3 separate regions of the Homo sapiens genome follow, and all the other regions are reported to be linked to region 2. Evidence: microRNA targets listed by miRTarBase, many of them from high-throughput screens and not tested one by one. Region 2 holds a microRNA gene; each other region holds the end of a gene's coding sequence.

Region 1 (4,189 bases), not on the chromosome of region 2:
TTGCGCTGGGCATATTCTTCATGTGTGTCTACTACTGTCTCCTGCACCCCAATGGGCCCATGCTGGGTCCCCAGGCACCTGGTTGCATCTTCCGTAAGGCCTCAGAGCCCTGTGGCCCACCCGCTGACGCCATCACGAGTCCCCCCAGGTCCCTGCCAAGGACTACAGGTGCTGAGCGGGATGGGGCCTCGGCGGGAGAGCGTGCAGGGACCCCCACCCCACCTGTCTTCCAGGTGCGGCCTGGCTTGCCTCCCACACCAGTGGCCCGCACCTTGCGGACAGAGGGGCCTGTCATCCGGATTGACTTGCCTCGCAAGAAGTACCCGGCCTGGGATGCTCATTTTATTGACCGCCGGCTCCGGAAGACCATCCTGGCACTGGAGTACTCCTCACCTGCCACGCCCCGGTTGCAGTACCGGAGTGTGGGGACTTCCCAGGAGCTGCTGGAGTATGAGACCACAGTGTAGGCTACAGTGTCCCAGCACAAAAGGGACAGGCTTGGCTGATCCCACATCCGCCGCAGTGTTGTGCCCCGAATTTCAGGGCCACCAGGCTAAGGGGGAGTGGATCTGTTGGTCCAAGGGTAGAGTGGCCCCACTCTTGGGTTCTTTCAGGGGAGGGGGCAGCCTTGCGGAGGCCCCAGCCCTGGGCCCCGTTTTCAGCCTTGTGGCCCATTCCCTAAATTCCCCTGACCCAGGGCCTGGGGAATCATCTGGTGCTACACTTTTCGAGCTGCCCTGCTTTCATGGGGCCTCCACACCTCTCCCCTGCCTGGCGTTGCCCATGTGTTGCCCCTGCTGGACTTGCCAGAGAAAGGGCACTGTCTGGGGTCCATGACCTAGACCCTGTGCTCCTCAGGGGTTGTGGAGAGTGGGCTGCCTCTATGGTGGGAAAAGATCTCTGAGAAGGATGGAGGTGGCCGTGGAAGGGATGGGGTGAGGTTGGAGCATTGTGTGGACAGGGATGGCGTGGCTCCTGTAGCATCTGAGGCCTGGAGCCAGGGCAAGAGGGAGCTGAAGAAGGGAGTTGGGGTGGGGCAGGGTGTTGGGGTGGGGGGCTGGCAGTGCTGGAGATGGATAGGAGAAAGAACTGGGGGGGGGGTCTAGGCTGGCAGAAGCATGGAGGGGTGGAAGACTTGGGGGAGGGGAACCTGCAATCCAGAGCATAGCGAACAAGAATGAACTCCTTAGGAGACGTCTCTTGTTGTGTTGTGGGCTCTGTGAAGGATGAAGTTCCACACACCTCAGGTGAAATGTTTGAAGGAGCCATTTTTTGTTCTAGATGTGCACCTGGAACGTGGCTTCTAGATACAGGTCTTCAACACAGCAGATAAGATGTCTGGAAAGATCTCTGGGCTCAAGTGCAGGTGAGGTTTTAGCACAGTTATCAGAGGAACTGATCCAGAAGCAGGCTTAGTTCTAGATTGAGTTCTAGAGTGCTAGGCTGATAAAATGTCCCAGGGAGCCACTCTGATCTGTGTATTCTGTTGTGAGGAGGAGGACACTGGAGGCCTGCTGCTCTGCTGTGGGGGATTCTAGCACCTGTCACAGTGGTGGGGGAGAAGAGGTTCTAGAGCCCAGCGTGAATGGAATTTTCTAGGAATGGGTGCTCTCATTCTAGACTTCTGGGGCTCATGGGAGCTCTAGGCCCCTGTTACCTTGGTCCATAGCCATCTTTCTAAAAGGAAATTGTCCTCAGAACCCCTGAGACATTTCAGCTGCCAACTGGTTCCCAGCTGGAAAAAAAAATAGCTCTGGGGACGTGACATGAATCCTGGCTCTCAGCCACTCTGCAAATGGGGCTCCCTGGAGCGGCATCTGGGAAACTGACTTGTTTTGCCTTAGATCTGATGACTCCCCAGGACCTGTGGTCTATTCCCATGGCCTGAACATCCTGGAGTGCCCAGGGGACTCACCCAGGGCCCCTCCTCCCACCTAGGACAGCCAGTGCTGGATTGAGGGGGCGTATGGGAGAGGGGAAGTAGGCAGTTCCATGGGGTGAGGAGACAGAGCCTCTAGCAGAGCTGGGAACCCAACCCACCCCCCACCCCCCCACACACACACTCCCACAGCAACTTAGGTGTGATTGGTGGGAGAGGACAGCAGCGGATGTTAAGGACAGATGCCAACCTGATCCTGGAGTGAGGTGGGCCATGAGAATCCTAGACTATGCAAATTAGAGGGATGCTTAGCCCTCCCTGGTTCAGCCTCTCTTGGGTTACAGATGGGAAACTGAGGCCCAGAGTGGCAGCCACTCTCTCAAGGTCCCAGACTCTGGGCTGCCCATCAAAAGGTGATGGGTAATGATGAATTGCTGGGGATGCAGGGTAACCCCAAAGGCAGGGAGGGCCAGACTGCCCACATACACACAAGCACAAGCACAACCATGATACGGGTCACCCTCCCCACCAGCACACAGGCCGAGATGGTGTACGCATCATCCCTCCTGCCAACACAGCAAGAGTGCTTTTCCTTCTTTCTGCTGCTAAGCACCCTCAGGAACGAGGCCTCGAGGGTGACGGGAGGTGGGAGAAGCCCAAGGCTGACCCAGGCCCACTCTGTTGGGTTCATCCATCCTCCAAATCCATCTTTGGAGGCTGAATTCACACACAAAGCCGTTGTGAGATGGGAGCTCTGAAGATGCGGACCCAGACCCAGAAACAGACTGTTTCTCCAGGGCCAACTTTGTGCCAGGAATTTTCACCCCATGTCGTTTCACTTACACTCTCCTCTGGTCACGACGTCCCTGCAAGAGAGGTATTATCAACCCATCTTACAGACGAGGAAACTGAGGCCCAGAGATGTAGCATGAGGGTCACCCTTGGCAAGTTATTCTCCTCCCCAGTATCCCAGAATGGCCCATCTGGCTGCTGCCTTCTAGAGGAAAAGTCCTAGCTGGGGTCCTTTACACTCCAGGAGACTCCCAAGGGGCAGGGATGTGCTGGCAGGGCTTGGCATGGTCTGAGGCTCGCAGGGAAGCCATGGCTACATTTTTGGATTTTACTCCACCCCCACTCCCCACCTCTTCTCAACCCCACACACCCTTCCCTCAGGGCTTCTGCCTGCAGGGACATCTGGGCACAGGAATGGCCACAGTCAAAGGGCCCAGGGAGAGGGCTGCAGGCACCTCCTCCTGCTTCTCACCCTCAGAAGAGTCTCAGCCCTTAAAGGACTCTCCACCCAGGAGCTCGGGACCAGGCCTGAGGCCCCCTGCTCCACTGGCTTGTCCCTTCATTTCACTGGGATAGAGGAGTCAGATGAGGGAGGGGTCCATCCCCTTGGAGCTGTTTTGTTTTTCTTTCTGTGACACAATCTACCTCAGCCAGTCTCTCCCCTAGCAGAACTGACCCCCCTGGTCCTCTGCCTCCTGTCCCCTGACCCCCACCCCAGTCTGGATGTTCAGTCCTTCCCTGTCCTTCCCACCCTGCCAGGGTCCTTGCAGCCCAGAGGGTCCCTGAGGGTTCCTTAAGCCACCTGCCCTCCACATCCATTAGACAGGAGAAAGTGAGACCCAGAGAGGACCAAGGACTCACCAAAGGCCACACAGGAAGTCAGTGGCAGTTAGGATTTCCCTGGGGATGAGAGGTAGTTGGGTGTGTCTTAATTTTGCCAGGAACAGAAGAGAACAGGATGCTTTGGGTACCAAATATGGCAGGCCCTGCCCTCAGTTACCTCTAACCCCAGGAGACCAGTGTCCCCATCTCCAGGGCAGACTTCTGTCTACCTGTTTTCTTAGAACTGACCCCCACGCTGTTGACTGTGTTCCCCAAACCTCTGCAGGCACCACACACACCCACATCACGGCGCCTCCTGGCACTGATGTGCCATGTGCCTTGTAACTGTCACCCCAGCTGAACAGCACAGACCTCCCCACTCCCCCACACAGGGCTCCCCAATGAGGGAGCCTTGCTTGATCCCCTCCTGTCATCTGCCTCATTCTTGTGTCTCCCCCAAATCTGCCTTACCCCCAGCCAGCTCCCTGCTACACCTGTGTCCCACAGAGGCATGTCACCCATGAGAGTCGGGAAAGACAGAGGGCAGGGAAGGTGAGGCCTGGGGAAAGTCCAGGCCTCTGGATAAGGGCTGAGGGAGCTGGGAATATCCAGGGAAGGTCTCGCTTGCAGTCAACACCCTCCTAAGTACTCGAGTTCTGCAGGTTCTTCCCTTGGAATTAATCTGGACCTGGAGTC
Region 2 (4,189 bases):
ACTGGGTGGCGCCCGCGCTCCGCGCGAAGGCCGGGAGGGGCAGTCCTCGAGTGACATCAGGTGGGCAGAGCCGGGAGCCCGGACCGGCCCGTGCAAACTCTCAGGATCTTACCGGGAAGGCACCCTATGCAGGCGCAGGAGTGACACGGAGGTGCCTGGAAGAGGGGCTTCCACTTGAAGCCCCTTTTTGCTCAGTCGGGTCACTGGGCGCCCGCAGTGTCCCAGGGCACGCCTGCGCTAAAACGGGACACCGGCTCATGCTGGCGGCTCCCGGGGCAGCTGAGGGACCGTGGCTAAGGACATTGGGGTCCCAGGGCTACAGGGAAAGAATCGTGACTGTCCACACTTTGTTAAAAGCCCACCTGTTTCCTTCATCAGCCGCTGCTGTCTGGTGTGTATCCAGGTCTCTAGAAGCTTCCAGGGGCACCTTGACCTGCCCCAGCTCCTACCCTTCCTCTCCAGGGCCCTATAAGACAAATTTACACAGGTGTTTCTCTCACCCTGGACCCGATTATTTGGCCCCACCTGCTGCTGAAATTCTGCCGCTGGGTCCAAGGAGGGGCTGCCCCAGCGAGCACTGGCTCCCACCATCTGGGACACATGCCCGTCTCTCTGTGCCTCAGTTTACTTCTCCATGTACTGAGGGACACAAAGATCCGCTCCAAGGCCCTCCCAGGTCACTACCACCTCCTAGAGAGGGGCAGAGTGTGCCCCTGGGCCACTTTCGTGCAGTGAGAGGGCACATCGTGAGGCCCGAATCAAACCCAGGGCTCCTTCCTTTTATTTTTTATTTATTTATTTTTTCAGACAGGGTCTCACTCTGTTGCAGCGGCTGGTGTGCAGTGGCTAGATCATAGCTCACTGCAGCCTTGGCCTGTGAGGCTCAAGCGATCCTCCCACCTCAGCCTCCCAAGTAGTTGGGACTACAGGTGTGCACCACCCACCTTGCTAATTTTTCGTTTTTTGTGGAGACAGATTTGGCCATGTTGCCCAGGCTAGTCTCAAACTCCTGGGCTCAACCATCTGCCTGCCTTGGCCACTCAAAGTGCTGGGATTACAGGTGTCCGTGCCCTGTCCTGGGGTCCCTTCTGAACGAGGCTCCTTTGGTGTGGATTCAGGAGACACAGATGTGGGAGAAGCTGAGATCTTCCAGGAAGGACACAACCCTGGGAGCACGTGCCTGCTGAGACAGCCATGATGTTTGCTTTCAGCCAAAGCTGGAAGATTTAGTTCTGTTGCACACATGGCTGCTGAGCATCTGCTGGGTGCCTGTTCCTGGGCCAGGGCCTCCTGCTCTCCAGAACCTGGAAGGCTGGGAGCAGAATAAGACAGATCTAGAGGCCTCACGTCTTAGGGTGAGGGGTCACCGGCCCCAGCTGGAAGTGGAGGGGAGGGACTTACTAGAGGCCTCCTAGAAAGTGTGACCTCCCAAAAGTTACTAGAATGATTGCTGGTCAAGCACCTGGACCCTTCTGGTCTACGATCACCCTGGTGGAGCTCTGGAGGATGAAGGGCAGCCTGTGGGGAGAGTCCGCTGGGAACAGCATGAGGAAGGGCACCGGAACAGCAGCAGCCAGCTGGCTGGTGACTGGCGAGAGTCTGGGCCAAGGTCTGGCTCACAAGGATTGGGTGTTCCTGTGACTTCCCACAGGGAATGGGGAGCTCTGGAAGGGGGTAGGGTTTAAGCAGGGAGTGGCAGATCCTTGTGCCTGCACTGGCTACCGGGGAGGGTGACGACTGCAGGGAGGTGACCTGAGTCTCTTTGAGAGCTGTGTCCTTCTCAAGGACTTTGTGTACTTTGAATTCCCTAAGAACTAAACATTGCCATTTTGGGTCAACATCGTGATATATATTCTATCATTATACTTTTTATTAGGCTTAGTAACTATTATAATAGCAGTGTTCTCATGGAGCCTCGGAGGATCAAAGCCCTTGCACGGATGTTTTCTCCATGGCCATTGGGATGTCTACTTGTCAGCAGATTGGCAGATATTCGATGACACCCTCACAGTCCCCCAGGGAGTGATGACTTCTGGATGAGGTTGGCACTAGGGCTGCCATCTCAGAACCCAGAGTAGGCCCAGGGGTGGTATCTCCGAAGGAGCCGAGGATTCTCCGTGATGACTTGCAAACTCAGCAGGCTCCAGCTCGGTGGCACTGGGGGAAGGCTCCAGACCCCAGCCTCTGTCATCCCTGCATGGAGCCCACATCTCCAAGGAGGCTGGGAGATCCTGTTTGGGGGTCAATTTAAATGTGAAGGAGCAGAATACAGAGAGTTTGGGAACCCAAGGAGGGGACAAAAGACAGAATCAGGACCCAGTCTTAAATACGCTCAGATTGCTGGGCACCTCCTCATGACAGGCTGGGCCCTGGGTACTGGATGCTAGGATGAATGAGAAATGGCCTCTGCCCTTGAGGGGCTCACAGACACCAGAAAAGACAAACCAGGAGAGTCAGAAAAAGGAAGAGCAAGGTGCTGGGGAACTGAGCCCCGAACCCCATTTCCCACTCTTACTACCCATGCCCCCTGCATGTGACATGGCCAGAATTTGTCCCTGCCTTGTGCCTTTAACTGTGGGGAATCCTGGAATTTTCTAGAAATCCAATTTCACAGAATGAAAGTTTTTCTTTTTCAGAGGTGATCCACTAAAACTTTAACTTAATTTCATTTTATGCTTCTTTAAAATTCGTTGATGTAAATAACTTACAAATCAAAAAAAGCCAAATTTGGTTTTGGAAATTACAGCCTGCACAGTTCACACATATGTGTGCACACATGCACAGGCACACACACAAAAGGTGCTGCCCACCGTGGGAGCTCAGCCTGAACTCGCACATGTGGATACATGTGCTTGGGCTCAGACCCCAAGCAAAGGCCAGAAGAACAGCTGTCGCTCTGTGAGAATTGGCTGGAAGCTGCAGGGAACACCTGTAGGAGCTGTTGGGGAGCCCTCCTGCCTCTGGCCACCTGTGTTGGGGTAGGTCAGGTAAGGAGTGATGGAGAAAGGTGGAGCGATGGTGGACAGGACGGGCGCTTCTCCAAGCATAGCCTGCTGCTTTCTTACTGCTTCCCCTGGGCTCATTTCAAAGGTGCCTGCAGTAGCACAGCCCAGTTGGTCACTGGGTCCCATTTCCCTGGGATGAAGATTTGGGCCCAGCTCAGCTGAGGGAACACGGAGGGTGAGGGAAAGGACATGAAGTGGGACTCAGGATGTGCCAGGCACGTGACATCTGGTCCTTCCACCCCCCCACGGACCTGGGCAGGGTTCCTCACCCGCCTGGGCTCAGAGAGGTCAGGCTGCCAGCCCACAGCTCACAGGGTGGGTGACTGAGGAGGTTGCATTCTGGCTTAGATCTGACATGCCGAAGTGCCATGGCCTGTGCTACCAAGAGGAAGGTTCAGAGGAGCCAGGGCTCTTCCCCTGACCTCACAGGCTACTGCGTCCTCAGACAGCTTGTGTGACAAATGGGTAATATTTCCCATGCATTTGGGAAGAGGGCAAGATCAGCAAGATTTCCCCGAATAGCATCCACCTTGGGGAACCACTCTCTGCCAAAAAAAAAAAAAAAAAAAAAAAAAAAAAAAAAAAAATTGTATTGTATTCTATGCATTTCATGACATGTAAAAGGTTGGGAAGTAAATAAAATATAAGAAGGTTCTACTATGTGCCAAGGCTGCTTCTGTTTTTATTTTTTGGCTCCACTCCTGCCCAAGTGCAGTCACAACACTCAAGGCAGGTGGACTCCTGGGCCCACGGTGTCTGTGTTCTCAGCTCTGAATTAGGCCAGAGTATTCTGCAGCCCCACGTCGAACCACTTGCACAGCAAAAACCAGCCAGCCTCTTAGGCATCTCTTACTGGTGCAGCTTACATGAAACACTTGTCTTTCATTTCAGATGCAGAGTGGAAATAATACTGTAGGAATAAATTCATACTAAAGTGTGAATGGTATACATAGGCCATTTCTTCCTTTGGCAAGTATCTCTTGAGAGCCAGCTGGTTAGGAGTCAGAGACTTGTCCTGGGCCATTCACTCACCTTTTTGCCTTCTGTTGTGAGAATTAAATAAGGAAATGTGGACCAAGAGCCTGGCACAGTAGAACCTTCTTATATTTTACTACCCAATCTTTTTACACATCATGGAATGCATAGAAAATAATAATTTTTTTTTTTTGCACAATGGAATAAAG
Region 3 (4,189 bases), not on the chromosome of region 2:
TCTATTTAATCTCCACACCAAGCATGTGAAGGAGGCACCATTGTCATCCCCATCTTACAGATGAGGAAGATGATCAAGGCTTGTAACTTGCCCAAGATCACATGGCTATAGGTGTGGATCCTATATATCCAGATTCAAACTCCAGCTTTAGCCCACTAAGCTACGGTGGCCAACCCCAGCCCAAAGTGTTGGGACCTGCGTGTAGAAGACCCCTTCAGCCCTTGTAAAGTTAGGATCTAGCATGTCTAAGGGGACAGAGACCCAATCCAGGTGACACAGGAGGTAAGATCACAGTGGAACAGGCCATCCCTGCTTTTCCACCACCACCAGCACTGTGACCTCAGACCAGCTCTACTCTATGAGTTTCTTGTGACAGTGATGGCAGCCTGGGGCCAGACAAGGGATGCGTGTCTTGTGTCCTGGACACAAGACAGGCAGGCCCAGAGGGGACAAGCTATATGAAGAGAGGCTTCAGCTGTCGGGGGTCCTGAATGCCATGGAAGGAGAGCAGGTGGGCAGAAGCAGGGAGCCCCTGGAGCAGACAGAGGGGGGATTCCTGCTGAGGCAAGGGGCTCTAGGACTCCAGGGTTTATGCTCCAAAGAACAGAATTTACCAGGACAAAATAAACAAGACCAGTCAGGACCGATGCCCCATCCCTGCTGGGGTCTGGCAAAGCTCTCACCTCCAAATTTGTATCTGTTTTGAATTCAAAGCCAAACAAACACATCAACAGTGAACTCCAACACCTCCCAGAGCAGGGCCTGAAAGGGACCCAGAAAGTCTGGCCAGAAATCTAGAGTCCAAGGGGAGGAGATCTGTAAACTAAACCGCTGGCCATGCTCTGGGGCCCTAAACCACTGCAGGCATCAGGGCTGTTCCAGGAGAGGGCACAGCAAAGGGGGTTGGGAGGGGTCTCCAGTTCCAATCAGAAATGAGGCTGCAGTCACTTCAGGTAGACCTGTCAGCAGCAGCTGTGCAACTGGGCTAGGGAGACAAGGATCGTGGTTTAGCCAGGAGAATCATCTGGGGCCCCAGCCAAGACACAGGTGTTGGATTTCAGCACCGCTCTGCAAATACTCATCTCAGTGACGATGAGGTGAGTGGGAGCTTGGCTGAGCCCAGCCCGGCCTGCCATCCTGGCAAGCCAGGGCAGCATGGAGGTAGCACAGAGTGGCACCCAGCCAGCGTGAATGCATAAGAATCTGCACGTGACACAGAAGAAAGTCTCTTCATGAAGTAGGTTTCACTGGTCCCAGCCAAACCCTGTGGCAGGTGGCCCTTTCTGCACCTGCTGAACATGCCATTCACCTTGACCCAGGTAGTGGCCTCACCCTCCTCTTGCTCAAACTGGAAACCTCAGCATCCTGAAATGCCTCCTCCCCAAATCCATTGCACACATGTGTGCCTGTGTATGCGTGTGTGTGCACGTGTATGAACCCAGCCCCCAGCTGCCCACTCCATTGCCCCTAAACAGGCCCCTCCTTGGTGTCACCTGGCACATCTCCACTGGAAGCCAAATGGATATTTCTAAACTGAAATCTGGTCCCACCTCAGAACCCCTTCCACAGTTCCCTTAAAGTTCCTTTCCTCATTTACATCAGGATCTTCACAATGGGGACCCCTGGTCACCTCCCAACCCAACAAACGCTCCAAATGAGCCGCCACTGCAGAAACTCATTATGGCCCAGGCAGGACAGGCACATCCAAGTATCTGACCAGGCTGTTCCATCTGCCAGGCAGGTCCTGCCCTCTCTCCACCCACCTGTCTAACCCCTGCATCCTCAAGACCCTACTTAGCTATGGCCCTGTGTGAAAGGTCCCTCCCCATGCACCCACAGCCATTTGTTCTCTCTCATGTGGCCCTAACAGGCTGGGGTTCCTGGAGACTCCATGGGGAGCCAGGCATGAAGATGGCATATACCCATGTGTCACTCCCCAGAACGTGAGCTGCCTGCCCTGGCACCATACACAAAGGGACTGACAGCCCCAGAATCCCAAGGGGTGCACCTATGCATATGGGAAAGGCATGTTTACGGGTGAGAATGGTCCATCGTTGGGCTTCAGGAGGCATCTGACCTGACGCACGCCTTTGTCACTTTGTCCTTGTGGCCTGTTGAAATGCCACTCCTGCTTTACAAATTCACCAACTGTTGCATGAGTCATTTCCACCTCAATGAGTACCAGGTCCTTGAGGATGGGGAAAAGTAAGCCACCACTGTGGGGGTCCTGGGCTCCTAGGTGCAGAAGAGGCTCCAGAAACAGGCCAGGTCGTGGGCCATGACCCCACACTAGCCCTCTGGTCCCTCACACGGGTGGATTGGGGGGCTGTGTCACGGGATCTTAGGATCTTCAAGACAAAGACCCAGGACAAGAACACAAGCCCACTCCCATTCTTCACAGGCCTCGAGAAATCTTTGGGCAATGAAGTCAGACTGTGCCAAAGCCCATGTTTCTGTCTCTCCAAGGCCCCTGGCCCCCACTGCCTAGCCTAGGTCAGGTCATGTGGGCAAGCGAGCCCCCACAGCCTCACAGCCCCTACCCCAGGGCCAGGGCAAACTCCTGCCCTGTCCCCCTCCATTCCTGCCCTCCCTCCTTCCACAAACTGCACCAGCTGGGGAGAAATCCTTCAGCCGACAGAATGAGGTGAAAATAGTGCAATTTTAGGCTTTGTAACTGAGATTAGGGCAGGTGGCCACCCATTCTCCCCTTCCTCAGGCCAGCCTCTGACACAATGACCCTGGAAGCCTGGCAGCCCTCCGTAATGGTCAGCATCCTCCCCTGCCATCCCCAACCCACACCATGAGCTCAGCCAGGGCAGGGGCAGCCTCTGTCTCATTCACCACAGAATCCACAGAACCCAGCACAGAGTATGAGCTCAGTAAATTCTCCTCATACATGACTGCACTGACTGGACCGGGCACATGCTACAGGGCAACACCCACGGCTCAGCTGGCCCTGGCTTTGGATCTCAGTCCCACCTCTTCAAGCTGTCCAGCGTGGGGCACATCGGCTACAGCCTTGCCAAATGAAGGCTTGCCAGGATGAAGAGGTGAAGACAGGACAAGCACAGTATGTGGCACACAGGAGGCCTCTGATAACATCAGTCCCCTTCCCTAAAGACCTGGGCAGTCCCTGTCACTGGGGCCTCACATTTCATGTCGAGAATTCACTATTTCTCAGCACTGATTTCAAATAAAGCCACCAAGAGTCTGACGAGGCAACATGGCAGAGTTCTGAGGGTGGAGTGAACAAAAGGTCATTTTTTACAGAAAACTCAGGATCTCCCCTCTGCACAGTGCTAAAGCCCTGTCTCAAAGTTCAGAGCCCGGAAGGTGCAGAGATGTGGCCCTTGGAAATCAAGCCCTTAAGAAAACAGCCCAGCTGTGTAGGGCCGGAAGCCCCAGGCTGCAGTCCTGTGGTCTGGAGGCAGCCAATATTCAGGTGAGAGATGTGCCCAGCTGCCGGTGGGTCCAGGGGGCACGGAGCCCCCACCGTCCCTGGCCCAGGTCTAGGACTAAGTCAGTGGGCCCAGGCCAGCTCCAAGGGCCACAGCTCCTCACTCGGGGGCCGCGCCGGAGCAGCCGCAGCAGCTGGGGCGCCGCAGGGACTGCATGACAGCCCGCAGTGGCCCCCTCCGGCCCTCCACAGACAGGCTGTCCTCGCTGGCGGGCGCCCGCTGCAGCTGCTCAAACTGCATCTCCAGGTGCTTCTGGATGGCCACACCGAGCACCTCCAGGTCCACCGCAGCTCCGTACACCTCCCATGTCATGCCCTCAGCATCCCATCGCACATCCCGCACAGGGGACGGCACCTCCTCCAGGCTGGACCCCAGAGTTACCTCTGGGAACACATGCAGGGCTGCAGGCGCTTCCAGGGACGGACTGGTGGCCACAGCCTTGCAGGCCGCCACTGGGGCCGCCTGCACACCAGCATCCTGGGCTGACAGCGGGGATGCCTCTGCAGGGGCCAAGTCATTGGCTGAGGTCATGGTCCACACATCTTTGGTCCTAGAGCCAGGCTCTGGGACTAACCCAGCGGGACCCCAAAGGTGGGCACAGCAATGGGAATGCCCAGGGAGCCCCCCAGACAACCTACAGTGGATCTTCACCCCATGCTGAGCCTGCAGCCCAGACTCGCTCACTGACGCCACTAGTTTGGGAAAGGCCAGGATCCCTGTGGCAGGTAGGG

The links. Region 2 holds the annotated microRNA hsa-miR-4267 (UCCAGCUCGGUGGCAC, at 2,143-2,158, shown strand). A microRNA usually pairs through its seed, bases 2 to 8, with sites in the 3' UTR of a target mRNA and lowers its output. Matches are read on the target gene's strand: a 7mer-m8 pairs with bases 2 to 8, a 7mer-A1 pairs with bases 2 to 7 and ends in A, and an 8mer does both.
Region 1: the mRNA of XKR7 is a reported target of hsa-miR-4267. Seed matches in the 3' UTR shown: 7mer-A1 at 1,734-1,740, 7mer-m8 at 2,021-2,027 and 7mer-m8 at 4,089-4,095.
Region 3: miRTarBase lists GPRIN2 as a target of hsa-miR-4267. Seed matches in the 3' UTR shown: 7mer-m8 at 3,535-3,541, 7mer-m8 at 346-352 and 7mer-A1 at 141-147.

The regions. Positions count from the first base shown.
Region 1 is chr20:31,996,991-32,001,179 of GRCh38, forward strand. XKR7 (XK related 7) reads left to right here. Exons shown (of 3, transcript NM_001011718.2): 3 at 1-4,189. The coding sequence ends at 467. Among named protein-coding and RNA genes, the nearest start is that of CCM2L, 11 kb to the right of the region's middle.
Region 2 is chr2:110,067,986-110,072,174 of GRCh38, reverse strand. MIR4267 (microRNA 4267) reads left to right here and starts at 2,133; the gene lies at 2,133-2,214.
Region 3 is chr10:46,545,803-46,549,991 of GRCh38, forward strand. GPRIN2 (G protein regulated inducer of neurite outgrowth 2) reads right to left here. Exons shown (of 3, transcript NM_001385282.1): 3 at 1-4,189. The coding sequence ends at 3,558. Among named protein-coding and RNA genes, the nearest start is that of GPRIN2, 8.8 kb to the right of the region's middle.